Linked DNA regions of Homo sapiens: regions 1 and 3 are each linked to region 2. Evidence: fine-mapped expression QTL. A gene starts in region 2. Each other region holds a variant in brackets. All regions are shown on one strand. Distances are between the middles of the regions.

Region 1 (10,397 bases), 29 kb before region 2:
GAATGAAATGGGGAAAAAAAGCAAAAACATAGCAATCACACTTTCTAATAAACATCATAAAATGAAACTGGAAAACACATTTTAAAACAATTTAAAGATAAATGCAGCACAATTTCCAGAGTCCTCTTAATATCTTGAATGCTGGTACCTGAAAAAAAGCAAGTTTAATTAAAGAAGCTGTTGGTAAATGACAGCACCTTACAGTTATTTTGAAAAGAACTGTGGAGGATTTTCAAGGGCTTTTAAGGTTAAAGGTTCTTCCTTATCTTAATTTTACCTAAAAACGTAGAGTTTTTCTTAAGTATCCCATCATAGATTTATCAGCAATAGTAAAGTTCACCTAAGCAAGAAATCTTCAAAACCTCAAAAGAAAATATGTCACTATTTCTTGCATAATCTGTCTCTCGATCTTTCAGGACAGTTTCTCTTTTTTGTTTTTCTCTTAAATTGCCTCTTTCAGTTTAGAAATCAGCACTCAGACCTCCAAATTCCTGACCTCACAATGACCTCAAAAATTTTCTAGTTGACAAGTTCCCTCAGCTAAGATACTTCAACTTCCTCACAGTTCTGATGTTCAAGCTATATGGACAGTAGCCCATAAATATTTGTTTTATGGTTAGACTGCTCCCCTAAAAAGAATCCCAGCAGTACAGAACCAGAAAGAGTTATAGATGTTCTAAGTTTCTTCCTGATCCTATAAAAACACCAACTGAAATATTTTCTTTTCTAAAGATAAATAATTGAGGAGAAAAAAATTAGTTTCAAATAGCTGATTAAAATCAAACCTGCCTGACTTTTTACATGCTCTGAGAACTTCCTCAACTAAGTTAAATATCTAATAATCTTGTACGATTCCAAGAAAACAAAAACAGGACTGATATTTTGGCAACAGCACAGGACAAAATAGTATGCCATGAGAAATCAGTATCACAGAATAATCAAACATATTGCTGTTACATATACTAGTAATAAAAAGGATTTGTCCCACAGTAAAAGAAACCTTTCTGTTTTATTTAACCCAGTCTATAAACATCTTGTGGGGTATATTTTGGGATATGCCAGTATAAAAACACATGTAAAAATAGACCAAATTAAAGGATGTTCAATAAAATCTACTGCCTACATGAAGTTAACACAACCACGGATGAAAACAGGAAAATCAGAAATTCTACGATAAGAAAACATAATAAGGATATAAGGGATAGAAAAGCAAAGTATTCTGTTGTTTCTTTACAAACAAAAGACAGAGCCTATCAATGAATGCTCATCATATATCATTTGTACTATTACTGCAATTTTACTGTTAAGTTATTCTAAAGTCCACTCAAAATGCTTGAAGCAGCAAGTACTTTAATCAATAAAATCTACCATAAGCCTCCATTTTCCATGCAGTTGACAAGCACACTGATGTAGAAATACTACATAATGGAAATCTGTGGAACAAAGTTATATCTGTTTATATGGCTTATAGCAGGAATAACTGAGAATGGGTTTTCCTTGTGCTGAAGTTCTAAAATGTTATAGTCTTGCATCATACTGAGCCAGAAGGCCAGAATGCAGCTAAAGTATACAGATGACATGGGAGCACATTTAAAAGACTATGCCCATTTGACCCTATTAGCACAAGCTGAAATGATGTGGGGTCCAATACTAAATAGGTTAATTTATTTATACTCAGCCTTTTTGAAAATGCATCTCTCTGAGGAATTACACAAGGCAAGATAAAAAGATAGATCTCTTTTGCTACAGGAAAGATGTGTATCTTACCAGCCTGGGGTCAAAAATGTTACCTTTAGGGGCTTGATGGAACCAGAAAATAGCAGTTATATTCACTTATTTCTCATCTTGTTATATTTGGAAAGATCTGAAAACAATCTTTTCTGAATTACAAAGGCTGAGAAAATGTTCTATTGAGGGTAATATAACCCATAATATAACATTTACTCAGCCTTTGTAATTACTCCATCAAGAACAGTTAATCACTAGAGATAATTTATAAGCAGAGGGGGTTGCCAGTGGCACCCTTTACTGACAGATATTGTTTATGGGAGATGCAAGGAGTACTACTAGATTCTTACTAAGAAGCAAGCAAGAGAATATACTTACTCTCTTTGGGCTTACAAGAAAAACAACAACAGAAGACTGCCTTTTACTGCCCAAGAGGCCATTACTGGCTTGCAGCATGTTAAAAAGAAATGTCTCATACTAAGAAAAAGATTTATAAATAAGTGACATGGCAGAAAAATGGATGGTTCAGTTCATACTAGCTAGATAATTTGTATAGTTGTCAATAGCTGGACACTTAATTCTATATTATTATAACTTTTCCATCAATGTAGTTCAAGGTTAAAAATAAGGGAGATATAGGGAATTGTGTAAATATGGTATTATCTTAATATAAAATCTAAGAGTCAGAAACTTTTACAAAAGAATTGATAAAACAAAAATCATTAATCTTAAAATATAATTATAATCGAAAAAGGATTATAAGAATAGAGCTAAAATAGCAAAGTAAAGAATAATAATTTAACCATTATTTTATATGGCTAACATACTATAAAAATTTTCTATGTAGATTTGAATGTTTTTTCCTTTCAAAAAATGTCTTGCAATTGCTGATGTCCTCATGTCAAAACAATGCCACTCCAACCAGAAGCCCACCAAACACTTGAAGTTTGCTGCAAGCCTTGCTCATATCTAACCTCAAACAGAAAGCAGCCTACAAAGAATAAAGAACAGTCAACTCAACAATGGTCACCTTTTCATTGTCATTTCTTTGTCCTGCTTTGCTCTTTATCTTGCTAAGTTTCATTTCTACTTTTAACATAATGTCATATCTCATTTGGAGATTTTTTTTTTCACTCAAACTAAATCAACACAGATTATACTTGCTGCCACTGTTCCTCATTTGATGTATTTCACTAAGACCCTATATACATTCTTTCCTCTGTAGTCTACAGGATTCATGGCCAGACACTGCTTACTCATTCTGGTAGATCTTCTTACTCCTGCAAAGAAGACCAATACCTCAAGGCCACTTTACTATTTTGCTTTCTCTTAGTGGTGACTATTAACCAGTTAACTTGTTTTCAACAACTTTTTCTTGAATTTTTGATTAGTTCAAAATAAAAGGATGATCAAGAAAGAGAGTCAACAGAACATCCTAGACAAATTCATGTTGTATGTTCTTTGAGGGCAGGAGCATCTCACTTTGTTCACCTTCAAAATTCTAGGGCCTAACAGACTGCCAAAAATATGTTTGTGGATTTAATGAATAAATTACTGAATAAATGAACATCTACCCAGAATGCTTAACTTATAAACTTTTCATAAACTCTTACCATATGTACAGAGGCAATAAAAGGAGCTAAGATAAAAAGACAATTCTTGCCTTCAAGAGCTTCCACGTAGGATGGAAGAAAACTTGAACAAATAACTATTAATATAATAAAAGCTACAAAAGAGTTAGATATAAAGAAATATGAGATAATATTATCTCTGTAGTGGCCACAAAGGCTATTTTGTGACAGAACACTAAACCTATTCCTTCATGACCTCAGAAATTATATATATGCTATCTTATGTAATTTCCTATTGTGACTACAGTCGCTGAGATTCCATGCAATAGCAGAAAAATATTAATACTAGCAAAAAATATTTTACTTTATAACACTCACATGAATTCTCTCATTATTGCAAAAGAAAGAAAAAGTGAGAATTTAGTCAATTAAGATATTTGTAACAAAAGTTAAGTATGGTATATAAAAAGCTCTTTTTTAAAAGTGATAAACCACCTAATCTTCCACAGACCTGTGGAACACATTAAGGTTGTATAAGTAGTATCATTATAGTTAAGAACAGTTTATAAAAGAATAAGAAGGGCAACCAAAATGTACCCATGTCCAAGGCATTCCTGACAGTGGGTTGTATGCTACCAGCTAGGTTTCCTGTGTTGGGTAGGAATACAGTGTATGTAGAATGGGTCTCACCTATTAACTCCTTTATCAATTGGACATCAGCATCTCAGTTGGTTATGCTGATAATCCCCTGCACTATACTATAAACAAGGAAATAAATATACCATTTATTAATATTTCTCATGAGAAAAAAAGTTTAATGCAAAGAATGATAATATATTTATCTTTTTAAAATGAGGTAATAAAATAAGCCCTATCTTTATTAACAGAAAACAATGATAGGGTATATCCTAAACCTTGTTACCTAAACCTTGTTATTACCTAGTAGTAATAGCACTGCTCTAAGTCAAAAGATAGTGAAATAATTCATTTATTTGAAGTGGAATTAGACCTGGCACGCTATCAAGACTATCCAGGAATAGGCATCCGGACAGGCAAAGGTCTAAACACAGTGTATAAAAGTTTAAAACCAATTTTCCTCCATAATCAATATCAACATATCTGCAGTCATTTGCATACTTACCACACTGACTGAATTTCTCTTTTAGTTTCTGCCAAGTCAAGTCAAAAGGTAGCTAGAATGAAAAGAGGTATTAGTAACATATATACAAGAAAAAAAAGAATTTGAATTATCCTTAATATTTATTTGCTTACATTTCTGACAAATATCTGGTTGCCTTTGGAGCCTATTCTCTCTCTCATTCCGCTTCCCATTGGACCCGATAAAAATCCTCGATCCATATCGATGCTCCTTTCCAGTATAGCTCCTATACCTGGTCCCATTCTATCAAAGCTGGAACTCATCCGGTCCAGTCCCATCCCCATTCCTCCAGTCACACTGTTCATGCTACCCATTCCACCACCTGGATTTTCAAGAAAGGACGGGGGGATTTGGGAATTTTGTGTTTTTGTTTCAAAAACATAAGGAAAAGGAGAAGAGGAGAAAGGAGGAAAAGGAGATAAACATTTTTGAGAAAGAAGGGGGAAATTAATTTGTTTATATAATTAAATAATATAAAAACATAAAATTATTTTCATACAGATAACAACTTTCCAAAGAACAGAATTTGCTTACATATACATTTAGTTAGCTGAGAAATTCTAGCCACTGTATAAATACATTATGCATATATAACTGTATAAAATTGTATTCTGATCACTAAATATATCATATAAATATATAAATCCTCTACCAATCACTGCTTCCAATAACAGGACAGTTGTTCTGATCCTTATTTTTATTTTCCAATAATATCAAGCATAATAATTGCTAAAATAAAGATACACAGAGATAAATGCAAATTATTACAACTCTAGCACTCAAGCCGCTCTCATCATACTCTCCTACAAGTAAATACTCCTTTCCTAGCTTATCTTTCACCTCAGCATCTTCACCTCTGTTTCCCAGTTTTTATTCTCATGGTAATTCAATACTCATAGCAAAACATAACTTTTAATCTCAATATTACACGGAACTTGTCAAGGGAACAAAAAATGCTATCACTTCCCGTTAGCCAGAGCTTAAGAATTTAGCTCCGAACTCATACCTACTTCATTCTTATGCACTGACTCGATT[T/C]CCTGTCCTTTTCAATTGCTCCCATCTTACTCATTATCAAACCTTTTGTCTTGTATGTAATATCCCCAAACATGGAAATTCTAAAAATTAACATCACCCTCAAATTGGCTTTTTGTGAATAACCAATATAAAATCAGGGAAACAGAAGTACAAACACTGAGATAAAAGAGGAAGGTAAGGAAGTTAGGACTAATAGGAAATGGCTGAGGCTAAAAGATGATGGAAGGAGGAATAAAAGGAGCAAGATACAATGGAAGTAGACGTCTTAAGCTGACAGGATTTTAGAATTTACTTTTAGAATAGTTTAAATAGGTTGTATTTTCTATTTGTGAAATTTGATCAATTAAAGGAAGTCAATAAAGTATGGAGAGCTCAGAGACATGTCCCAGTAAGCAAAAGAGGTTAAAAAAATAAATAAATAATCCATGTATTCAGGCTTAATATAAGGCCTAAAAGGTAGGAGTGGAAATAGACGGATGGGAGATTCAGCATTCCCCAGTGTTGCAACTACTCTTGATGCTATTACGGGAAAGGTTCAAGAGGAAAAGAATTAAGTACCTCTTTCAACCTTAGCCTGACTCAAGCTCAGGAGATGCCTAAGAGTGCTATATCTGCATTTACCAAAAGACATAGATGTTTACAAATAAAATAAGCTAGTCACTAATAGCTATTATAGAAAATAAGCAAGGAAACAAAGTTGGTGCTAAAGCAAAAGTTGCTCCTGAAACATGATCAGAGAAATCCCCAGATTCCTTAGTTGGAAAGAAGGTTCCTGGATTGGCTGTTAACACATAGTTTAGAAATATCAAAAAAGTAAAATTCAAACAGTTAATTTAGAAATTTCAAACAATAATCAAACAGAAAGGCTTTGCTCAATTATCAAGGTTTCTCAAATTATAGCAAGACACATTAACGTATAAGAACAAAGTATTACTATACTACGATAACTACTCTTGCAAAGTCTTTGCAAGCACTCAAATATTACTGAATAAATTCTAGTAAAATTTAAACCTACTTATTCCAGATCCTACTGGACCCATGTTAGAAGATCCTATTCTTCCTGCAAACCCTCCAATCATTGCACTGCCTAAACAAGGATGGAAAGATAATATACTAATTAATTTTAAATAATCATACTTTAAAATTCCCAAGGTACTATGTGCTCTGATTTACAATAAATGAAAAGCATAAAGTCTTCTGAAAATAGAGTTCAAATATGTAAGATGTTGAAAAAGAGAGCTAGCATATTAAAATCCTTAAAGTGTTTTCTTCAGGTAATAAGTTGTATAAAACATTATGATTTTCTGATTTTTCACAAAAAAAGAGAAACCAAATTTCAAAAATTATAGCCTACAAAAAGAAAAGGAGAAGTATGCAGCCAGCCCTACCAAGTCTACCAAAGGAATCTCCAAAGCCTCGATTTATTCCAATATCACCACGTCCAAAATCTCGCTCCATGCTACTAGTCATCGCACCACGGTACAGCTCTGAAAAAATTGTGCAACAAATTAACCTTTTCAAATATATCAATACATGTTGAAAACATTCAGGAATGTATCTAAATTATGAAAAGACGCGTAAGTCACAAATATAAAATAGTCTGTCATTTACCCAATTTACCTCACATGCCACACATATCATCCCCATTCCCCAGGCCTGTCCTTATCCCCTAGTGCCTATATGCCTTCTGAAGACATTTTTAGCACACATTCCTAAGTTATAGGGGGGAAATATTAATAATAGGGAAAACTAAATATGCACACACTTCCCACTGCATACATTTACCTACCTCCCATTCGGCCAACTCCTCCAAATCCTCCCATGCTATTCATTGCTTCCAGACCACCAAACCCTATTCCTATGGAATAAAGATTAATTTTGAGATCCAACTGTCAGTCATGTAGCTGAAAGGTACGTTTTGTAAATGTTAAATCTCACCAGTAAGCTCTTCATCCACCCTACCTTGTGCAGCTACTTCTTAACACATCACCTTCCTTTAAGTATGTACCAGGCTCAATTTCTGCTAGCAGCCTTTAGAACATGAGCCAACAATAAACCATGACTTTTTTTTCATGGAATTCTCAACACAGTTTCTAGTTTATTAAAAATGGTGATGGGTACATACAAAAAAACAAATCTTTATACATACCTCCTCCAATTCTATTCATTCCTCCAAAACCTGGACCATCCATTCCCATACCTCAAATAAAATACACAGTATGTACTTTAAGTATATTTTATTTTTATGACTAAAAGATGATATAATGCATTATAGCAAAATAGATACCACTGGTATAACCACAATGAAACACTAGAGAAGCGGTAGGGTACAGGAGGCATGGTTTAAAGTGCTATGCCATAGCAGCTGTCTAATCATGAATCTTCAAAAGGGTTTCTTTGAACATTTATCAGACAAGAAAGCAAAATTCACTAGTAACACCCACAACATTCAGTTAGAGAATATCTTGAACTAGGTAATCATTCACTTTTTTTTCCACAATAAACACAGAAATACTACTATCAATGATTTTTTTTTTCCAGCATAGACACAGAAATAGCATTACAGCAGATTTAGAGATCAGGCCAGAATGTAAGGACTCTCTAAACATCGCAGTTAAAAGAGCAGTAAAAATTTTCAAAATATAAATAGTATGTATTTAGGAGAGGGTAGGTAGGTGTGAGAGTCTAAGGGTAAGGGAGAAAACTTGTTTGGATCAGAATGATTATGATAATGAGCCTCATAATTTAAAGTGTGACTACAGCATCTTGACAAAATAGGAATCTGATAGCATTTATTAGTCCATCAATTAAAACAGTAATTCACAAAGTATGGTCCAGGGACTCTTGAGGGTTCAATAGGTCAAAACTATTTAAGTCACCAAATACTACTAAGACATTATTTGATGTTTTACCCTCATTCTCTTGAGTTTAAGGTGTAATTTTCCAAACACTATATGATGTACAATATCACAAAAAACTAAAGTGCAGAAACAGATATAACAGCAATATTAAGCCAAACATTAAAAAGATGTGTGGAAAGGTAAAACAATGCCACTCTCCTCACCAATTTCTTTTTTGCATTGAAAAATAGTTTATTTTCTTAAAACTTTTATGTATGTTAACATGTAATGAGTTTATCATTTTTTAATATGTAATTTTTTTAATTTCTAATTTTTCATTTATAATACAGTAAATACTGGTAATTATAACTACATAAACAAAGCATTTTCGGGTTCTCAACAAATTTTAAAATATAAAAGGGTCCTAACACCAAAGTTTAAAAACCAATCTCTAAAAATGAACTGTGAGTTCTTCCAGGTGAGCAGCCAAATAACTACCTGAAAAGCCACCTTCCCAAATGGATAAACAGATTTTAGCTGCCTATGATATGGTAGCATTTCAGCTACTCCATAAATACTGTTCATAGATGATATATTCTCCTTCTGCCTTCAAGACATTTCAAAATCCAAAATGCTAAAAGGCTAGCTACAACATAGCTGGCCCCAAAGAAACCCTCCTGACTTCTGCCTATCTCTTTCATGTTAGCTGTGCTCAAGGTTTCATTCCTTTTTCAGAATGAAGTGACACCGTAAATATCTAACTATTAATTAGAGTCCTTTAAACATTATTACAGACCACATCAATGGAGGCTTTATTAGCTAGCATATGTATCATTTAAAAAGAAAAGAGGAAGTTAGAATACTCACCACCTGGACCTAAATTTCCCATTACTCCACCTATGTTCAACTGGCTGGCACTAATAGGCTGTCCACCCGGACCAAGTCCCATCCCAATGCCTCCAAGACCACCTAAAACAAAAATGAGAACAATCATTACAAAGATCCATATATGATTAACTAATTGGCAATAAAATTTTTTAAAAAGCTATATACCTGTAGTAGTATCTGTAAAATTTCTGCAAATTTTCATATAAAAGCACTGGTTCTTGTTTTTGTCTAGAAAGTAGCACACTGAAGCCCGACTATAAAACCATTTATTAATGAGAAGTGTTTTATGAAATAAAACATGATATAATACAAAGTACACCTTATACCCCACTTAAAGGTACACTGAGAGGAATAATAAAATACCTAGAGGATTTTGAATAATATCATATCACCTTATATATGGCACACATATCTGAAAATGAGTATCTTGCCCAAATTTGTAGACCCACTTAAAATTTGATAATTACTTTTTAAATGGTTCAAATCAAACTAAAAAGTCAATAACCATGAAAGTATAACACTGAATAAGGCAAATATTATATTACCTAGTTTTCTCATTGATATAAATATTTATTTATATTTATATGGCACCTTAAGTGTTTCCACATCTATTGTCCATAGAAGAGGAAATTTTTGAGACCTTAGGTTGCTTGCATAATGACATGTAGCTGATTTTAAGACTTTGGTCTTTGCTGTCAAACTGCACAAACTGCACAGGAAGGACAGATTACTTATAAAGAAAGGACGATTCAACAAATAGCTGACTTAATAGCAACAGTGTAAACATGAAGACTGTAGAATACTTTCAAAGTGCTTAGAGAAAATAATTATCAATCTTTATACAAGTTAAACTATCTTTGAAAACATTTAAAACCCAAAATTGAGAGAATTTACTAATAAAAGATCCTCACTTAAAAGAGCTTCTAACATATATGCTTCAGGGGAAAAAAATTAGTGCCAGAGTCTATAAAAGCAGAGGAGTGATGACACAAGAAAATGGTAAATAACATTGTCTAATTTGCAGGACAGAAAAAAAAATAGTACAGAACTAATAATACAGAACTAAAATGCTGAGCAATGATAGTATAATTCAGTAGGAAAGTGACTGTATCCAAAGGTCACTCTACTATTACATAAAAGAATAATTATATTAACTTCAGGCTTCACAGAAATATT
Region 2 (10,397 bases):
CCATAAAAGATCTCAAATGGCTAAAGCAAGCTTAAACAAGAAGAAAAAACTAAAAGTACCACACTACCTGATTCAAGTTATATTACAAATCTATAGTAATCAAAACAATATGGTACTGGTACAAAAACAGACACACAGACCAATGGAGCATAACAAACACTCAAAAACACATCCCCAATATATGGTAAACTAATCCTTGACAAAGGCACCAAAAATATACAATGGTGAAAGGACAGTCTCTTCAAAAAATGGTATTGGGAAAACTAGATATCCACATACAAAACAAAATGAAAATGGATTAAAAACTTATAACACCTAAAACCATGGAACTCCTAGAAGAAAACACAAGAGAAAAGCTCCATGACCTTGGCCTTGGCAATGATTTTTTTTTTTTTTGATATGACACCAAAAGCACAGACAACACAAACAAAAGTAAACAACTGGGACTACATCAAAGTAAAAAGTTATTGCACAGCAAAGGAAACTCAACAAAATAAAAAGGCAACCTAAGAAATGAGAGATAAAATTTGCAAACCATATATCCAATAAGGGATTAATATCAAAAATGTATAAGGAACCCATACAACTCAATAGCAACCCAATTTAAAAAATGAGAAAAGGATCCAAACAGATAATTTTTCCAAAGAAGACATACCAACGGCCAAAAGGTATATGAAAAGGTGCTCAATATCACTGTTCATCAGGGAAATACAACTCAAAACCAGACTGCAATATCACTTCATACCTGTTAGGATGACTTATCGAAAAGTCAAAAGATAGCAACTGTTGCTGAGGACGTGGAGAAAGAACCTTTAGATACTGCTGGTGGGAATATACATTGGTACAGCCATTATGGAAAACAGCATCAAGGGTCCACAAAAAATTAAAAACAGAACTACCACATGATTCATCAATGCCACTTCTGGGTATATATCCAATGAAAATGAAATCACTATCTCAAGGAGATATCTGCACTCCCATGTTCGCTGCATCATCCACAATACCCAAGATATGGAAACAACGACTTAAGTGTCCATTGACAGATAAATGATTAAAGGAAACATGATATATATTATATTTTATGTTTACACAACACATCCACACTGGAATATTATTATTCAGCCTTACAAAAAGAACAAAATCTTGCCATTTGCAACAACAGAGATAAACCTAGAGGACATTGGGCTATGTGAAAAAAGCCAGACTCAGAAAGACAAATGCTACATGATCTCACTTACACACAGACTTTTAAAAAAGTCAAACTCAGAAGCAGAGAGTAGAAGGGTGTTTACCAGAGGTGGAGGGCAGCAGGGGATGGGGAAATGTTCTAAGGGCACAAACTTTCAGTTATAAGATGAGTAAGTTCTGTAGATCTAAGGTACAGTATAGTGACTATACTTAACATATTTACTGTATACTTGAAATTTGCTTAAAGAATAGATCTTAAGTATTTTCAACACCAAAAAATATGGTAGCTATGCGAGGTAACAGATACGTTAATTAGCGTGATTGTGGTAATCATTTCACAATTTATTTGTATACCAAACCATCACACTGTACACTTCAAAATATACAATTTTTGTCAATTTACCTCAATAAAGCTGGGGGAAACAGTTCTAGTCTTTATTCCTAATAAAAATCACTCAGCTAAAGAACACATTACCTTGCTCCAATGCTTAATATTTTATAGTACCCTAATATAACTCTCAATCTCTACCTACTCCAAAGTTATACTTAATTACACATGAATAATAAAGTTATAATAATACTGCTCTTTTCCCTCCTATTCATTTTTAAGAAAAGGAGAGCTAGTATACCATTTGGCGTTAAAGAAGAAGACTACAGTTGGAAAACGGATCTTTTCTAAAGGTGTGAATATGCAAACTAAATTCCCTGTATATGAGTTTCATAAGCATGAAAGTTCACTTCTGCATTTCTTCCACAAATATTTACTAGGCCTTAAGAATACAAAGAAGAATAAGACATAGTGGTCTCCCACCCTCAATAACTATGGATTAACCTCAGCAAATATTATTTCAATCCTGATGACAAGCAGTACTCTGTTCAATTCCAACCAATACATAATTTGGGGCAATATTATGGTAATTTTTATAATCAACAATGAATTATTTTTATTATTAAAAGTATATGGTAATCAACTCAAGGTTTATGTATTGGGGTTGTTATCCACTCCTACTAGTTCACGAAGTAAAAAAAAAAAAAAAAAAAAAAAGGACTAGGTCGCTAGTTATTCAGTTTGAATGACTCATGCTGGACCATCACAAATCTTCTTATGGAATAGACAGTAAGAGAAATCCCTGAGAGTAAATTGGACTCGATTCAACTTCTGGGAAAAAGAGAAAGGGAGAGGCGAATTATAAGCAATATGGAAATAATCTGTATTTACTAGTAATATTTCTTCATTTCTTCACCTTATATTTTTCTCTTCCTAAATTAGAAAAGGATTCTTTCTCCACCTTTCTCCTTTCTCTTTTCCTGTCTTGCTAAATCATGAAGAGACTTTAGAAGGGAATAGAAAATCTGATGGAGGTTTAGATACCAAACTTCCCCTATATCAAAACTAATCATACCCAAGTATAGGAGGGCTTCTCTCTGTAATTCAAGGCTGCACTTTTTGTTCAGGAGAAAAGGTGGCATGTATACTCGTGTTTAGATATGAATAGCACATATTTTTAAGTTTATCATTCCACCGGTTTTCATTTCTATTTTTAATGCCAAATTCCAGAAAGCCCACATTTTGGCAAGCATGGTAGAAAGCACTTCATTCCCTTTCTGGTTCCTCAATTACTGAGGTGCACCACTCTTCATCCAGGAATAAACTCCACTAAGTTCCAATCTCTTATACCTGCACCTCTATTCTCCTAGAAGATGCTGCCGATCCTGTTCAAACTCATTTGAGAGCAAGAGTGTCAAAGAGCTGGGGAGAGCTACCCCATCTTTTTTGCCACCAACTTTTACACAGACTGGTCCAGTTCTTACCATACAATTTCAAACATGCTTATACAAAGGTCAGAAAGACCTTTCCCTTGTCTATTTTACTGTGAGCATATATCTATTGCTTTCTGCTCTGAGGCATAACAGAGAAGGAAAAGGATGTTTTCACTTAATTATTAACATACTTTCAACTTCAGGTTTAAGGAGGTAGGCATATGAAAGTAAGCGCTTAACTTCATATCCTCCCACAGGACAGGAACAAAGGAGAGCATAACATTTCCCTAGAACCAGAAATTATTATGGATTGGGGTCAACTAAATTCTTTATAGGCACTGGTGACAGCTGCGACCTTAAAAGTCTTCCTTCATTTGGGAAAAAAAAAATCTTAACCATCTATTATACCAAACTTAAGATAATCATACACTGAGTTAAAAAAAAAAATACTCTCCACAGCTGACGCACATTACCCAGTGGGAAGGGAAGCCACGCACATCGCACATTTCCCTTTTTAAAGTACGTCTAGCCAATTCAAGAGTAACACAAAACATAGAGTCTAACAGCACATTATTAAACTTCCTCTCGGTATAAATCAGTTTAAAAATGAACATACACTTTAGAAAACAACAAAACACTAAACTTGTGAAGCTCAGAAAGAAGCCAGGAATATTCCTTTTAAATATGTTCTCGGTGGTTAAGAGGAAATGTCCGATGATGTCATCCCTAGATACTCCCTAGTGATGAACACTAACTACTGGTCCTTAAAGGGGGACCATTTTCCTGCAAACCGTGGCGGTCGCTGAGCTTTGCTCAAAGATTCTTTAACCAAAGTCAGGGAAGAGGGGTGTTCGCTGTCTCGGGCTAGAAATCAGGGAAGAGCGCTGGTCCCCGGGCCCCCAGCCCCGGCTCCCAGACCACAGGCGGCCAGGCCTGGGGCGGGCGGGGAAGGGCCTGGGAGCGGCCCAGCTGCACCTGCTCCTCAGGAAGCCGATGGCCCGGGGGCGGGCCGGGGTCTGGGGGTGGTTGTCCCCCATCGGGGCACAGCCCGGCCTCTAGCCGCCCGGTAGACTCCCCGCCCCCCACCTCGCCCCGGTTCCCGGAGGAAAAGACAATACATTTTAACGCCATTGGAGCTGCTGCTGTGCTGCGGCTGCTGCTTCTCCGCCTCCGCGGGGTGCGGCTCTCGCCGCGGCTCGCCCGGCGGCTCTGCGGGCTGCAGGTGCGGGCTGTCGCCACCAGTGGCCCCGGGCACCTCGGCCTTGTTGGCGTCCGCCATCCCGCCGCCGCTGCCTCCGCCTCGGCCGCCTGAGCTGAGGGGCTCCGAGCGCGACAATGGCGGCTGCCGGGGAAGCGGTAACGGATCCCGATTTGAAAAGGCCCCGAGCGCTCAGTAACCCGGATCTCGCGAGAACCGGTCGAGACTGGGTGACTGGGAGATGGTGTGTGCCGGGTGCGGGGGGTGGGAGTGCGGGGGGAGGGGAGCCATGGGAGCTGGGGTCAGGGCCGCTGTTGCTGCAGTCGGCCCTACACCTGCCTGGGAGGGCTGGACCAGTCCTGAAAGCCCCCGGTGGTGGTGCCATGTCTGCCCACCAGCCCGCCTGTCGCTTGGCACCAGTGGAGTCTTCGCTTGCAAAGCGGGATTAGACATCAAAGCCCTAACACCCAGACTGTTCAATTCATTCCAGGTAGGGGCAGTTAAAGAACACACCACTTTGCATCTTTAAAGACTTCTTGCAAGTCCTCAGACTGCCTTTAGAAATCCTTTGAATTAAGCAAATATAAGTCTCTTGCCATTTCAATGCCTAGGCACCCTTCGGACATTCCATAAATAGTTATTGATGACTGATTGCAATTCACCAAAAGGAATGACTTTGAATTTCTTTGAGAATTATTTGTTCTTAGGGGGTGAGGATTTCCCAGGAACTCAACTATCAGCTTAGTAAGAGAAGACTGCAGTTTTTCTCTGGACATCAATCAATATGGGGAATCCATAATTATAAAATATCGTCTACTAGATGGGCTAATAATGGACATTTGAGGTTTTGACTGTGTGTTTATTGTATACTGATGGAAATTCTAGTGAAGTAGTTAGTTATACGCTCTCAAATTTAATTGCCATATGGAGTTTTAAAATACAGTCGTAGATTTTTCCCCCTAAGTATGAAAAGGAAACCGTTAAATTTAATCAACTCCTAATTCTCGAGTACTATAATCTTTCACATTGACATAACCTTTTTCAGCTGAAAAGTTTAAATGCCTTCCCAAATTTTTTTTCCATGAAGAAGCAAACACGTACAGTTTAGTCACTTTGCAGAATATCATACACACATCAGTGGTAAAGTTATAGTTAGAAAGTAATACTCAAATAACATAATTTCATCTTCGGCTTTTCAATGTGTAGTTTCCTACCCTCTACCGAAAAATACCAAGTTCAGCTACTTCATCACACACACACATACACACACACACATACACAAACACACACACACATAATCAGAACATTTTAATGATAAGAATGCTATTGTAGTTGCTGTATAAATTGTTTCTCATTCAACTCTGAGACATAAGATTTATAATCGCAGAAAGGGCATTCAATTGTGACAGACAAAATCTGGGTTAGAACCCCAGCTCTGCCTCTTTTTGCCCATAACTCCCTGGGCAAGTCACCTCATTTCTCAATCTCTCTACAATAAATAGGGATAGCAATACCGACCTTACAGGATTGAGGTGAGGATTAAAAGAAAGCACTTTATGTAGGAAAAAGTGCTATATGAACATAATGTAATATTACAATTCTCTATCTCCCTAAGCTCAGCAGGGTTTTAGTCAAAGACAAGCCAAGTGATTTTTCCCACAGCACTAAATTATAAGTACTTTCAAAATAGTCATCATTCTGTTATTCTTTTGCTATTGTTGAATTCAGTATGAAAATTGAACCCCACCATCACCAGTACAATATATTCTTGCAAAAATCCTTTAATCAACTCAATGCAAGATTTTTTTAAGAGGCCTTTATGCTTCAAACAGAGTAGTAGGTACATGAGGAATACAAAAATGAGTACAGCCCTGTTGGGAGAGGGCTAATGTAAAAAGTACTATTTAAGTGCTATAATACAAATAAAAGCAAAGTATAATTAAAAAATTATTTACAAAAACAGGAGACTGGCCCACATGCCTTAGTTTGCCAATTAAAATATTCCATTAAAATATTTATCTTGATTACTGAGTTTTAACTTTTGTACCCAAGACAAATGCCTCACCCGCTGTAGCTTGGTTCTAGTCCTGATAAAGAGCAGAGGTTAATTCCTACTGAGAGATTGGTGAGGGCCTTATAAAAGAGCTGGATCTTAAAAGACAAAGAATTAAGGCAACTTCTGAAGGGAAGAGAATGATTAATCTTTACCATTCCATCTGACTGCTCAATAGATTGATCTTTCCTTCCTTTCTTGCTATTAATTGCAAAAGATAAAGAAAAAACTATTAATATTCTGTTGCTGAATTCCATTTCTGTATTTGCTTGTCTTCCTCTCTACTGTTTTGGTTTGTTTTGTTTTGTTTTGTCTTTTTTGAGATGGAGTCTCGCTCTGTCACCCAGGCTGGAGTGCAGTGGCGCCATCTCTGCTCACTGCAAGCTCCACCTCCCGCGTTCATACCGTTCTCCTGCCTCAGCCTCCTGAGTAGCTGGGACTACAGGCGCCCGCCAGCAGGCCCGGCTAATTTTTTGTATTTTTAGTAGAAACAGGTTTCACCGTGTTAGCCAGGATGGTCTCCATCTCCTGACCCTGTGATCTGCCTGCCTTGGCCTCCCAAATTGCTGGGATTACAGGCGTGAGCCAGAGCGCCCGGCCTTGGTTTTTTGTTTTTTGTTTGTTTGTTTTTTAGTGCATGTAGGTACATTGAAAAATTCTTAAGTGATGCTCAAATTCTTATTTTCCCATGATTCACATTGCAAAAGCATTATCCTTTGCAATTGCACAAAATATATTACTGGTACAACTTCACATAATCACTTAGTTTTCTTTCTTACAAATTAGAATGCATGTTTATGTGTGTGTACCTGGCGGGATAGGGGAAAAGCTATTACACGTATCTAGAAATCTAATCCTAGAAATCACAAAATATTTTCAATTAATACCTTAATATATGTATCACTTAGGAATTGTGTTCATCTGCTAATAACAATAACTAGAAATAATAGTGTCTTAAGCAAGATATACATTTTTACTCTCTTAAGTAAAATAAATGCAGAAGGAGCATCCCAGAGGATATATAGTAGCTTCACAGTCATCGTGAAGTCAGGTTCCTGCTACCTTAATCTTTCGCCATCCTAGTGTGAGGCTTCCATTCTTAAGGTTGCCCTATGACCCAAGATGGCTGCTGGAGATCGAGGCACCTTGTCGGCATTGTAGGTCAGAAGGAGTCCAGAAAAAAAGGGACCTATCCAGAAGTCTCACACAACACTTCCGCTTATGGGCAAGAACTTAGTCACATGACACACTCATCTGTGGGGGAGGTTGGCAAATAATTTGGGGGCTGGGCTTACTGCCCAGGGTTCTGTTACCAATGAAGAAGAGAATGGATGTCATCATTCTTCTTTTTTTTAATTTATTTTGTCTTTAAGAATTAAGTTTTAGGGATAATAATAAAATTTAAAAGAAAAAGAAACTAGACAAAAATGGTGGCTAACATTTCTATGGTGACAATAGCTTCTAAAAATACTTCCATATTTGTGCTGATATTCTAGCCCTAGAATTCATAATAAATAGATTACCTTCTCTGGGGTATTCAGAAACTCAAAAAAGAAAAAAGAATTAAACGGCAAAGACCAACAATATGAAGTAAAACAAAAAGTATGGTATAATTTTTAAGTCAATTTGCTTCACTATATAAATTGCTGGATTTGAAGGCATGAAGTTTCTAAACCTTACAAAGTAAAAATTTACCTCTTTAAAGCTTAAAAAGGAATTCGTAACTTTTTAAAATACTATGGTTTATATTTGAAATCTACATATGTATTTCCCTTTTTATAGAAAGTTCATTCTGTGATGAAAATGTGGACATTGGTTACTATCAAGTAGAAAGTAAAGTTTAATCTTATTCTGACGATTAGCTATTTACCATTCTCTCTCTTCTTCTCTTTTCCTCCTTTCTCTCTCTCTCTCCCTCCGTATCTCTGTATCACCCCCAATACACCCTCATTACACCACAGCTCTGCTTACTTTAGGAGTTCTTTTTTTTTAGCATTTAGCATTCCAAAAATACATCCTATACAAAGGTCTCTACCAGCTAGCTAAGTGAAGTTTAGAATTAAGACAATTATCTGAATAATCCAGGCAGAAACTCCACTTTTACCTCAATTATTCAAATAATTCAGAAAATAACCTCCATTGCCTTCAGGCATTGCCATTGGATTTCTGTCTGTGATCCTCCATTTCATGAAACTAAACAGAATCCAAAAATTGTACCGTATTACAGCCCTTTTCCTCAAGGGTCACACCATTCCTGATGGCTGCTTATGAGCCTAGTTTGGTGAAAGCTATGATTTTTCAGTAGTATACTGATGTGATATTTTTTCATGGTGTATTGCAAAATGGTAGATTGAAGTGATTTCATGTTACTATGTTTCAATTCACAAAGTGTTTAAACATGCAGAATATATATATGTGTGTATATGCAATATGCAGTATGTATATAAACAAAATATATTTCCATGATTTTCATTTCTAGCTATTTTTATCAGTCAGGAAAAGAAAGCTTTTGACTCAGTCAAACACTATAGATGTTTCCTCTAGGAAAGGATTTAATGCATAAAGTCTTAGAGGCTTATACAACAATTAGTAAGGCTGAGAGGGCAAAGGTCCAGGAGCTATTGCTAGAGTTTGAAATATTAGGAAGAGCAGGAGTCACAAGGAACCATGGCCAAGGATCCCTCTGACCTGTAACAACAAGATAAGTCTCAAGACTTCCTTGTGCCCAGAATCTGCTGACTTAACATTCCATCTGCCGTTTGCTGATACCCACAAAGTTACCTGCAGCCACTACTGAAATTGATGGCTTCTCTTTCCCTTCCTCCTTGCAAATTTTGTAACAGTGCCTCTCCTTGGTAGAATTTAGATTGAAATACTATTAGCAACAGAGTTTGATAAATGTCTCATAGGAGACAGAACTTAGAAGGGCAAAAACGATGCTAAGTGTCAATAGGTAATATTTTGCACAGTTTCTAAACCATTTGGCATGCTTTCTGAGGTACCCACATATGAAGGAGACAGTTACCCTATGTGTGCAATCGTGCTTTGAAAAATAAAATCAGGCCAAATGTTTTAAAATGTGTAAATTATAGATAGAAAACAACAACTTACAAACTGAGAGATCTCAAACCGAAAATGCTAAGTGGAAGCTCAGAGGCATGGCATTATAGGCTGGCTTATAAAGCAAAAATGAAACTTTAACTTTTACGATGATTTGTTATTACCATGGAGGTTTTCAGACAACAGATTGGTTTAAAATTCATCATCTTATACCATTTTTGGAAGACAACTTAAGTTTTACTTACAATTGTCAGAGGTATTTACAAGAAATAACCTAAGTTACTCTTACATGGCCTAACTGGTTTTGTCTGCTCCGAGGGTTCTCAAGCCTGGTCTCCATTTTATTTTGTTTTAACAATCCATTCATTCATTGTGTGTGTTAGATTTAAAAATGCCTGAACTTCTAAATAAGATAAAGTATGTAAAAATACTTGTGACTTATCTTATTCTCTTGACTCCATTAACAAATCTCAATTGTGAGTTCCTTGCAATATCGTTCAGGCTACTAAAGAGACTGCATGGTAGTACGGTCAGTCTAGATGTTCTGACAGTCCCAACGTTACAGAGCAAATGTAGGCTTGCATAAGTGTCCATGTACTTCAAACCAGATTTCTGCATCAGCACTCTGAATATTTCTGGAAACTAGTATCAACAACATTTCTGAAAAATCAAACCTTATTCTTCCCAAGTGCCTTTGCTTTGAGCACTATCTAAAGTCCTCGGGACAGTTACATAGGAACTACTGTAGAACTACTGTAGACTAAAAAATTATTACAATTAATCAGTCCTCAAAACATTAGGCTTACATTTTCTCCTCAAAAATCTTCATATTTTTAAGTACTGTTTTAGATCATAGTCACTAACTTCAATTTATTTTATACTGACTTTTAGGTAGTGTAGAAAAAGAAGGCCCCTCCTTAGTTCTTTCTGATTATCTCCTATAGTTGCCTAAAGTGTCTTCGCATCTCACCAGATAAACGTTCATTCAGTTTAGCTTTGCTTAATATATGAGAGGTGTGGCTTTTATTTGGCTAGCCTAGCTTTAGAACTCTGATACCAAATATACAACTGTTCATTCTTTAACAATGCACAGAACCCTGAAAAAGAAAAAGAACTCACATTCTACAAAATCATACA
Region 3 (10,397 bases), 330 kb before region 2:
GATGAAAACTCGTTTGCTCTGGAAATAAAATGCTTTCTAAAGCATTTGCTAATGCTTTCTAAATGAAGGTCAAGAAAAGAAAGAAAAATAGTATGTTTTGTTGGAGGAAAGTTTCAAGTTTAATTAAATTATAGAACATCATGATTCAAAGGAACTTCAGGGATCGTCTGATAGAAGTCTTCATTGAATTATCAAATCCTGGCCCAAGTGGACATCAGCTGCTACTTGGATCTTCTAATGACAAGAAGTGCAAGAGAGAGTATCTCATTTGTTTCCTGAAAGTTCTGATTGTTTAAACTTCTAAGTACAATCTGCCTCCTGAACATTCCATTGTAGTTCTTTGATCTGGAGCCGTACAAAAGCTTCCTCTTTTACATGTCAGCTTTACACACCACCCTCAGCCTGGAGGATAATTAAAGTTGCTTGGAATTTGCCACTCAAGGAATCGTATCCTACCTGAATGATAATATCCCACTAGGAGAAAATCAGGGCAAGCTCATGGTCAGTGCCAATAAACCTTTCAGAAGTTATGGACCAAATGTCCAAATTCCTATGTTGAAGCCCTAATCTTGAATGTGAAGGTAGTTGGAAGTAATTAGGTTTAGATGAGGTCACAAGGATGGGGCCCCCATGATGGGATTAATGTCCTTTTAAGAAGAGGAAGGCACCAGAGTTCTCTCTCTCTTTCTGCCATGCCAGGTCACAACTAGACATGGCAGTCTGCACGCCAGGAGGCGGGCCCCTACCAAGAATTCAGCCATACTGATGCCCTCATCATGTGCTACCCAGCCTCCATAACTGTGAGAACAATTGTCTGTTGCTTAAGCCACCCAGTCTATGGTATTTTGTCATAGCAACCAAGTAGACTAATATAAGAAAGAACCTATAAGCCTGCTCTGTCCAGTATGGTAGTCATCAGCCTGCCAATTGTGATTATTGAGTGTTTGACATATGGCTGATCTAAATTGAGATGGGCTGTGGGTGTAAAGTACAGAGCAGATCTCAAAGACTTATATGAAAAAAGAATGTAAAATATCTGTTTAATTTTCTACATTGATTACATGTTGAAATAGTAATCGTTTATAATATTGAATAAATTAAAATAATTTACTAAAATCAATTTCATTAGTTTTTTTTTGTTGTATAATGTGACTTAGAAAATATAGAGTCATATACATGACTCATGCTATAGTTTTATAGAAGAACACAGCTCTAAAGGCAAGCAGCTGTTCACAGATGTGACAAATCCAAGTCTAGCCTGGCCTCTGCTTTATCCTTTCTTACTTCTGCCTTTCCCCAATCCCACTGGCCCATGTCCCTTCTTTTCTGCATGTTTGTAGCAGGGTTCACCCTCATCCTCACTAATGTCAAGTCAAACCTCAAATTTGTATGTGGCTCCTCAATTGAGTACTCAAAACTCAGGACCACATGTTTGAGGACTCTAATGATACAGTAATTGGCCCTCAATAGGCTAAGCTCCATTCACTCAAACACTCAACAATTTTTTTTGCAGTTACCTCATGCTAGGTATTCTGTTGGGAATAGAAAAATGAATGAGATAGTCCCCTCTTGTATGGAACACATGCTTGACTGGGAAGATAGATGTTAGACAAATATACATACGTGCACATACAATAACTTGTCAGTTCAAATTGTGATAAATTCTATGGTGCAAGTAGTATGACCAGAGGATCTTGTATACCTTGGAAATCACAGGGAGCATTTTTAAGGAAGCGGTAATGAAAGGAAGATTTGAAAGGCAGGAAGGAGTAATCCGGGTGAAGACCAAGAGAAAGAACTTTTTAGGTGTGTGATGGCCTCAAAGTGAGAAAGAGCTTGGCCACATTCAACTAAATGGAAGGAGGCTGATATAAACAAAGGGCTTGGGGTCAGGAGGAGAACGGGCCAAGATGAGGTTGGAGATGGAGGCAAGGCCCATATCAAAAACTGCTGCAAACCATGTCAGGAAATTTGTACTTTAAGTATACTGACTGCCAACTGAAAGATTTTAAGCTCTACAGTGACAGGATGACAAATGTGTGGGGGTTTTTTTGTTTGTTTGTTTCTAAAAAAGATTACTCTAACAATCATGTGCAGAATAGACTACAAGGGTCCAAGAAAGAAAGCAAGAAACTAGTGAGGCTATTTTTGGTGTTTAGGAAAGAGATGTAGGTGGCTTAGTCTTGAGGGAATATAAACTTAGATAGTGGATGGACTCAAAATAAAATCTATAGAACTTGGAAGAGATTGTATAGAGTGAGTGATGAAAAAATAGAGATCAAGGATTGCTCCAAGTTCCCAGCATCAGCATTTGGAAAGATGAAGATGTCTTCACGAGCAGAAGAAGACAGATGAAGGAACAGCAAAAAGAAAGATCAAGAGTTCAGTTTAGACAGACCAAGAACTCTGTTCTTGGCAAGTCATGAACACTATGATTAAAAAGAGCCAGATAGGGTAGAGGTCAAGGGTACGGTGAGAAGTAGTAATAGTCATGACCTTTCTCACAAATAAGAATGGGCAAATGTTTTGACCTATCCCACATTAACAACATAAACTAAGAGGCATGATTAGTCAAAGGTTTCAGAAGGAATCTTGAAAAACATAAAGGACAGTCTTTTGATGACTAAAATTATGACCAGGAGTGAGTGTGTGAAATTAGCCTGACTGTTTTTGGGTATGGCTGCCTAACTCATGACCAAGGGAATGTGTGTTCACCTGAATGCAACAGGATTCAAGCTGGAGGCACTGGAACTATCCATCAAGCTTAGTATTTGCCTTCAGAGCTTCTTCTCAAATATTTACAAAAATGGTTAAGAATCCTGAACCTAAGGCTGTGCACAGTGGCTCACTCCTATAATCCCAGCACTTTGGGAGGCCAAGGCAGGCAGATCACTTGAGGCCAGGAGTTCAAGACCAGCCTGGACCACATGAAGAAACCCCGTCTCTACTAAAAATACAAAAATTAGCCAGGCATGGTGGCACATGCCTGTAATCCCAACTACTTGGAGGCTGAGGCACGACAATCACTTGAACCCAGGAGGCAGAGGTTGCAGTGAACTGGGATTGTGTCACTGCACTCCAGCCTGGACAACACAGCAAGACTCTGTCTCAAATAATAATAATAATAATAATTTAAAAAAAGAATTATGAATCTAACATTGAAGTAAAGAGGAAGCACTAGGAAAAAGTGGGAGTACTAGAAAGCATCTTACTCATAGCATGTGTCTCCCGGGAAGCTTATAGAAACTGGATTCTTCTGTGCTTTCTAGTTGGCAAGAAGAGTAAATTCCTTACCAGGCAAACTTAGAGTTCTCCCTAAGTCTCTCACCCTGTTGAATATACAGGAAACCCCACAAAAGAGGACAAGTCTACTAACTTCCAAGGAAATAAAATATGCCTATGCTGCTGTATCTTTCTTACAGACACAAGGAATGATCCATGGAAATAAGGAAGCAACCCCAAAACCCAGTCTGTTGGAAGTCGAGTTTTTGATGATTAAAAAGGCAGGTACAGCCGGGCACAGTGGCTCACGTCTGTAATCCCAGCACTTTGGGAGGCCGAGGCGGGTGGATCATGAGGTCAGGAGATTGAGACCATCCTGGCTAACACGGTGAAAACCCGTCTCTACTAAAAATATAAAAAATTGGCCGGGTGTGGTGGCGGGCACCTGTAGTCCCAGCTATTTGGGAGGCTGAGGCAGGAGAATGGCTTGAACCCAGGAGGCGGAGCTTGCAGTGAGCCGAGATCGTGTCACTGCACTCCAGCCTGGATGACAGAGCGAGACTCCATCTCAAAAAAAAAAAAAAAAAAAGAAAAAGAAAAGGCAGGTACCACCCTGCATGCATAAGGAGGTCCCCTTCTTGGGCCCGTTACATTGCCTGCCAAATCTGAAGTCCCTGCTATGAAGGAACTGTGAAACACTGACTCCAGATCCAGATTTTCTTGTCTTCTGGAAATACAGCGCTGCTCCACTCCCATACTTTAGCAGAATTCTTCTCCTCCCTGCACATTCAACCCCCATATTCTAACCATTGGTACCATTCCAAAATCTTACTATACTTATGCCCTTCTTTCCTGTGCTATGTTAAAACTTCTGGTTAACTATGCTGTCCATATTCTACACATTCACGTCTTAAATAAATACATTTTTTTTTATATTGGCGATTCCAAATTGCCTACAAAACAATTACAAAATACGTCAAGCACACAGTAAAGACTAGTCAAGTATGAAATAGTATAGAGTAAAAGTGTTTCAAGGCAGACAAACTGACCTAAATTCACAGTCAATTGTTCTGCATTGTTAGGACTTCACTAATGATTGTATTTGTTCCATCTTGTCAAGGTTGATCTGCCATTTATGCAATCCATTGATCTACAGACAAGAATTAATTTCGAACTCAACAACTTCTGTCAAAGTAAGGAGCTTAGTTTGAAAATATAGTTTTCTGTTGCAGATCTTTGCTGATATCTTCTAAAACTGAAATTCAGGCAGTACCAACACTAAAATAGAAAACAAATCGAAACAAAAAATCAACTCCATGCAAATGTAGGCTTAAATGTAGGATGAATATATTTGTATCCTACCTTTTCCTCTACCTTTTCTCCTTCCACCCTCTACATGCCTCCCTGTCACCCATCCATTAGCATTGTCAAAGTTGTTTACATTCTGTCCTGCAATCATGAGCAAATGTACTTTGTGTAAACTGATAGAAAACATTGGAAACAAAAACAAAAACCTGTTTACATTATCATGATCATGCAAATGCTGTTCATTCCTGTATTGAACAGCATGCCAGGATTACCTCTTCTTTGTAGGTCTCACCTTGGGATCCTTGAGTCATTGGTAGGAAAAGTTTCTAGCATCAAAGCTAAAAGTGTGTTTTCCCATTATACTCAATTAATTCTATAAAATCAATTTACATTTGACTTTGCTTCACGGTTGGACCATTACTCTCCTTCTTTTGTTTTCCTTGGAGTTTCTAATTTTTTTTTCATTTCAGTTTGTGCTTTTGCCTTGAACATATCACCAAACATGTCCAAGCTATCTTGCAAAGACATTTGTAAATA[T/C]TTTTATACTCAGAACCTAAACTCTCTTTCTGTGCTGGGGAATTTTCCACAGGGTGCGTCTTTTGGAGTCAAAGCCCAAGTTCCTCTATTGAAAGCTGAAAATGCCCCAGTCTACTTCCCTGATATCCTTTGCATCTAGGCCATGAACAAGTTACCTAGGATTTGCCTATAAAATTTTACTACTGAAGACTTTAAATTAAGAACTAATGACTCAAAGAAGTGGGCACCATGAAGTGTTAAGTCTGGATGGTATGGTTGGCGGCAGTGGCTGGAGTGATGAATTTCTGTAGACCCCAAGACAGTGGTATTAGGGTGCCTAGTGCCCAGGCCCAGGAGCAACCATGAGACAAACTGCATGTTCAGCCTTCAATGGAGGTGGGAGTGGTGTCCCACGGGTCTAAAGCCATGGCCTAATTTTGGCAACTCTCTCTGGCAGCTGCTCAGCTGCCCCTTTTCCTCCACTTTTCTCAACCTGATATTTCAAACTTATCAGTAATGAGGTGTACATTTTCTAAATACTTACTGTCTAAAAGGCTTTCTATTCCGAACTCCCACTTCAGTGGACATAAACTTTGAGCTTGAGTATAATTTTCCGTCAAATTTGAAGTTTCTTGCTTCATTGTCTTCTACCTTCCAACCTTGCTTTTTGAAAAGACTGATGCCAATTGCATTCTTTTTTCTTTGTAGGGATTTGGGAAAATAATTTCTGAAAGATTTGCAGGTCTTCTCTTTGTCCCTGGTGTTCTGAATTCACAAGGCTGTGTCTAGAAAAGGTTTATTTCTATTATTTGGAATCAGCACTTTGTAAGTCCTTTCCATTGGATGGTGCCAGTATTGCAGCTCTGAGAAAATTCCTTTTTTTATTGATTTTTTACTTCCTTTTGTTTTCTTAATTCTTTCTTTCTAAGAAGCTTATTAATCCAATATGCACTCCCTGGATGTTTCCTTTCCCTATGTCTCTTATCTTTTCTTGCATTTTTTTCCCATTTCTGTCTTTTTCTTCTATTTTCTGAGAAATACCACAGACTTTAATTCTTTTATTGATTTTTTGGTTGCTTTTGGCAATTGTATGTTAATCAGCAGAGGCTTTTTCTTTTTTCTTGTTCTCTCAGTGTCTTTTTATGGCATTCAAATCTTGTTTCGTGAATATATTTTCTAATCTCTCTGAGCTTATTACTGAGGAAGGGTTTAAATGCTTCTCTTTCATTTTATGAATCACTTCTTTTCCCCATAGCCTTTTGTTGTATGATTTGGGTTCTAATAGTTCTCCTCATTGGCTTTGTGCTTTTTACTTTCCATTACTATTTACACAGAAAACTGGGTACAAAAATGGTGTTCCTCTGATACCATAAAAGTAAAACTACCCCTGGCCAGAATAAAATACAATTCATATTGGCAAGGCTTTCCTATTTTTTGGCAATAAGAAGCCCATGAAATTATAATTAATGTGTAATTGAAGTAAGTAAGGTGCTTCTCTGGACAAGGTGTTTCCATAAAAAACTCATCACAGAGCAACGGGATGATGTATATTGTGAAGCCAGAATACAGGCACCAAAACCAAAATACATTCCATCTGAACCAGGCTCCAGGCCCATGATGACAATACTCACACTTTCTAGGGGTCTGAGAATCACCTTCCTTTACTGCAGACGGACCTTCCCTATTACTCCTGTCTCCAGCTATAATTGACCTTTAATCTCTCCGAGTGACCTACCAGCTACTGAAGTTAAGGAAACCTTGTTTAGATTGGTGGTTTTTCATTTCTTCTAGGTCACTGACTGCTTTGAGTGTCTGACAAGAACATCAGCTCTTTTCCCCCAGAAAAATGTATATACTTAAAATTGTTTGGATATAATTATAAAAATTTCAATTCATCCATAAACCTTGTGGCCCAGAGGTGAGAAGCTCTTTTCTGTGTTATGAAAAGTCCAAATTTTAACAACTGACATACTATCCAAAAGCCAATGCAAATGTCTAACCACCATATCAGAAAGTGTCCTGCTATCAGCATTATTCTAGGAGTAAGCAAAGAAGTGCGATAATAGTATTTTATCAAAAGATCTTCCAGTGACTGAAAACTAGAGCTTAAAAAGCAACTCAAATATCAAGGGCACAAGAGCTGGAAATTCCAGTCCCCTGATGAGGAAATCTATGCTACGTGAAAAGATGCTTTAAAATTAGTTCCCAGATTGGGCTGGGCACACTTGTTCACGCCTGTAATCCCAGGAATTTGGGAGGCCGAGGCTGGCAGATTGCTTGAGATCAGGAGTTTGAGACCAGCCTGAGCAACATGGCAAAACCCTGTCTCCGCCAAAAATTTAAAAAATTAGCTGGGTGTGGTGGCACTTGCCTATGTAGTCCCAGCTGCTTGGGAGGCTGAGGTGAGAGGATCACTTGAGCCCAGAAGACAGAGATTGCAGTGAGCTGAGATCATGCCACTGCACTTCCAGCCTGGGCTACAGAGCCAGACCCTATATCAATCAATAAATCAATAATTAAAATAAAATTTTAAAAATCAAGAAAAATTAGTCCCCAGCTTGATTTTGTGCCACTGGCCCAAGAATAAACCAGTTTTCCTGTCTGGTGACACACAGGACAACTCTCTGGAATTGATGTGAAGATAGAGCTGGGTTTGGTTCACAGAAGAAACTGTGCAGGTGGGAAGTCAGTTCCGCAGACTCGCCATGAGTCTGACCCAGCTCACTGTTCTCTATGAACTCTTCTTCGTCTTGTCCCTGTGAAGAAAATATTCAACCTGGTCTGTCTTCTACTCTTTGGGTCTGGAGAGATGGGGTCTTGTAGTCCACACAAATGGAGAGTTTCACAGCAGGGCAATACAATGAGGTCAAGAGTCACTATTATCCTTACAGATTACATCAAAAGATGTAATTTATCTTTTTGGAGTTTGAATCCAGAAGTGTCAAGGCAGCAAGATGAAAAGCAGGAATTTATACAGCATGTTCTTGCCCACTTGCCCTCATACCTGGAGGAATGAGTCCTCTAAAAGTTACATACTATAGCCTTAACTCACATACCTTAACTTTTGTATGGAGAAGTGCATAATCCTTGAAATTGACTTGTTTGGGCGTAATGACTAACTAGCTATAAAACCAAAGTTTGAATTGCTAATTTAAAAGTCCACAGGCTGACTGACATTAAGATGTAAATACAAATTTCCCAGTACACACCTTGCATCTGACAGCTACATGACCACTATGTTCCAAAGAAGTCTAACAGCCACAGGCCATTGCTGGGTGGCAGAGGTAAGAGACTCCATGGGGTTATTTGGCTATATTTTATTACCGAGCTCAGGACTTGCTTGTGCCAGAACCAGGAGATGTTGACCTTTTATAATTGAGGCAATCTCCTTAAAGGTCAACCCTGACAGAAAAGACTGTAATTGTGATTGGAATTGCCAACTCCCAGGGCTACGTGAACTCAGACAAGCATTTGCTGTTTTCTCTCACCGCTCTTTCAGCAACTCTACTCAGGCCACGTGGGGTTTTAATATCATCAACTGGGGGGAAATCAACCAAATACAACAGCTGCCACTCCTTGAGGGCAGGGATTGGGTCTTTTTCCATCATGTTACCTGTAATATTTAGCCCAGTGCCTAACAAGTTTACTAAATATTTGTTCTCTCACTGACCAACTGAACAAATGAACAAATGTTCTCACAGTAAATAGTAATGAAATGCCAGCATTTTCCTGGAGTTTTCCCAGAGGGATGTATTCAATTTTACCATTCCTGGCAACATTGAGGGCTCTAAGCTACCTAAACCTGGAAGCAAAACAGAAAGGTAAATTTTCTTGAGCCATTATATGTTTCCCACAGTCTTATCTGAGCTCCCCTTGATGAGGAATAACCTGTCATGTGCCTTAAAGCCTCAAAACCACAACCTCATATAGGTTATGATGCTAATTTTACCGATGAGGAAGTGGAGACTCAGACTGTTTAAAGAGCTTTCCAAGAACCTACAGATAAGTACACGTGGATCCGGGATTGGAAGTCCAAGTCTGTCAGATTCTGACATGTAAAGCTTTCTCCCCCACACAGACCCAAGGGAGCCTTTGGAGTGGTTCTTCTTGTCCTCAAAGACTCTCACTTTCTCCAAAGTTCCCATCACCTGTAAATGAGAAAGGTGACCCCATCAGGCTCCAATTCAGACATAGTATAGCATTTATCTAATGTGGGCTTGAAGCCCTTCACTACTAGCTCTCTGTTGAGTCAAATTCCAGTCAAAGTGAACATGAGTGTGACATGTGTGCAGTAGATTCTGGCCAAGGGTGTAGACTGTGAAATAAATGCCTGCACTCACAGACTGCTTCTTAGGTGTGTGACACTGCATTGAATCTTTCCTTGCTGGTGCAACAGGAGAGCCCAGTCCAGTGCCTCTTCTACTACCTAATGCTAAATGTGTTCAATATCCTTTAGAGGGCAAGGTTCTGTGTAATGCGGAACACTCCTGACTCTACCTGGAGAATTGCGTGAACACCCAAGATCAGAAGCCAAGATGTCAGATCAACAAAATGCCACGGGGCAGGCACTCACCTCAATCTCTCATTCAGAAGGGTGTGCAATTCCAAGTGGAAGTGGGACCCCCAAACCAGCTGTGAATTCTGAAGGCAGCTGAAAAGCCGGGAGATTCACAGCATACTGTCTCTCCCCAAGGTGTGGGTGCAGGTTTCTCTCTCGGGACATTCTCACCTCCCGCTGGGGTACCTCCCCCAGCGTTCAGCAAAGTGCAACAGGAGGTCAGGAGCTCCCAGGACTATGATTCTCTCTCCCTACCAGACAGGGATGATTTGATCTGGTTCCAGTCCAACCCAAAGCTACTTCAGTAAACAGTGTTTTTTTTTTTGTTTTTTTTTTTCTGAAGATTGCCTATTTCTGTCTTTTACCTCCCTTGCATATGGCAAGGAGAAATAAGATAATATATGTGCAATGCTTTGAGCTCCTTGGGAAAGCAGCACTCTTTAAGTGCATGATATTAATAATAGCAATATTTCTGTTACCACGAAGACAAGCTGAGTCCATCTTTCACATGTCCTTTTAAGTCATTTTCCCTGCGGCTGCCTTTTCTGGTAAAATGGTTCTAAATGAGCCATACAAATCTCTAGTTTTAAAATACTCATTTGGGGAAAATGCTGGTTAGGCTGTATCTTACCTGGAAGGGGAATATTCCTATGTTTGTTTCTTGAAATGATGATGATTCCGGTAGGTCAGGAATGGGAGGGCAGTCAACCACCAGGAAACAGACATGTGAAATATGCAATTGGTGTGGAAAATAGAAATCCACAGATACCCTGCCCACCATGGCCAGGATTCC

Alleles and levels. Alleles are on the strand shown, and positions count from the first base shown. SD is a standard deviation of normalised expression in the study named. Not every link is listed here.
As copies of T replace C in region 1, the expression in fibroblasts of the gene that starts at base 4,286 in region 2 goes up (moderate effect, 0.70 SD a copy in GTEx).

Evidence for each region.
Region 1: its variant is fine-mapped to the expression of MYEF2 in fibroblasts (GTEx, PIP above 0.99).
Region 3: its variant is fine-mapped to the expression of MYEF2 in thyroid (GTEx, PIP above 0.99).

Annotation. Positions count from the first base shown.
Region 1 is chr15:48,144,592-48,154,988 of GRCh38, forward strand. It overlaps MYEF2 (myelin expression factor 2), which reads right to left. Exons shown (of 17, transcript NM_016132.5): 10 at 9,201-9,302; 11 at 7,643-7,693; 12 at 7,283-7,351; 13 at 6,882-6,980; 14 at 6,509-6,580; 15 at 4,572-4,780; 16 at 4,441-4,492. Among named protein-coding and RNA genes, the nearest start is that of MYEF2, 29 kb to the right of the region's middle. RefSeq lists an enhancer at 5,230-5,794. The variant T/C (reference allele first, on the strand shown) is at 5,494.
Region 2 is chr15:48,174,010-48,184,406 of GRCh38, forward strand. MYEF2 (myelin expression factor 2) reads right to left here and starts at 4,286. Exons shown (of 17, transcript NM_016132.5): 1 at 4,068-4,286. The coding sequence starts at 4,228. It also overlaps a transcript of CTXN2 not described here. RefSeq lists silencers at 3,628-3,797, 3,828-4,257, 4,428-4,527 and an enhancer at 4,230-4,881.
Region 3 is chr15:47,848,980-47,859,376 of GRCh38, forward strand. No RefSeq gene overlaps it. Among named protein-coding and RNA genes, the nearest start is that of LINC01491, 7.9 kb to the left of the region's middle. RefSeq lists an enhancer at 2,034-3,233. The variant T/C (reference allele first, on the strand shown) is at 5,068.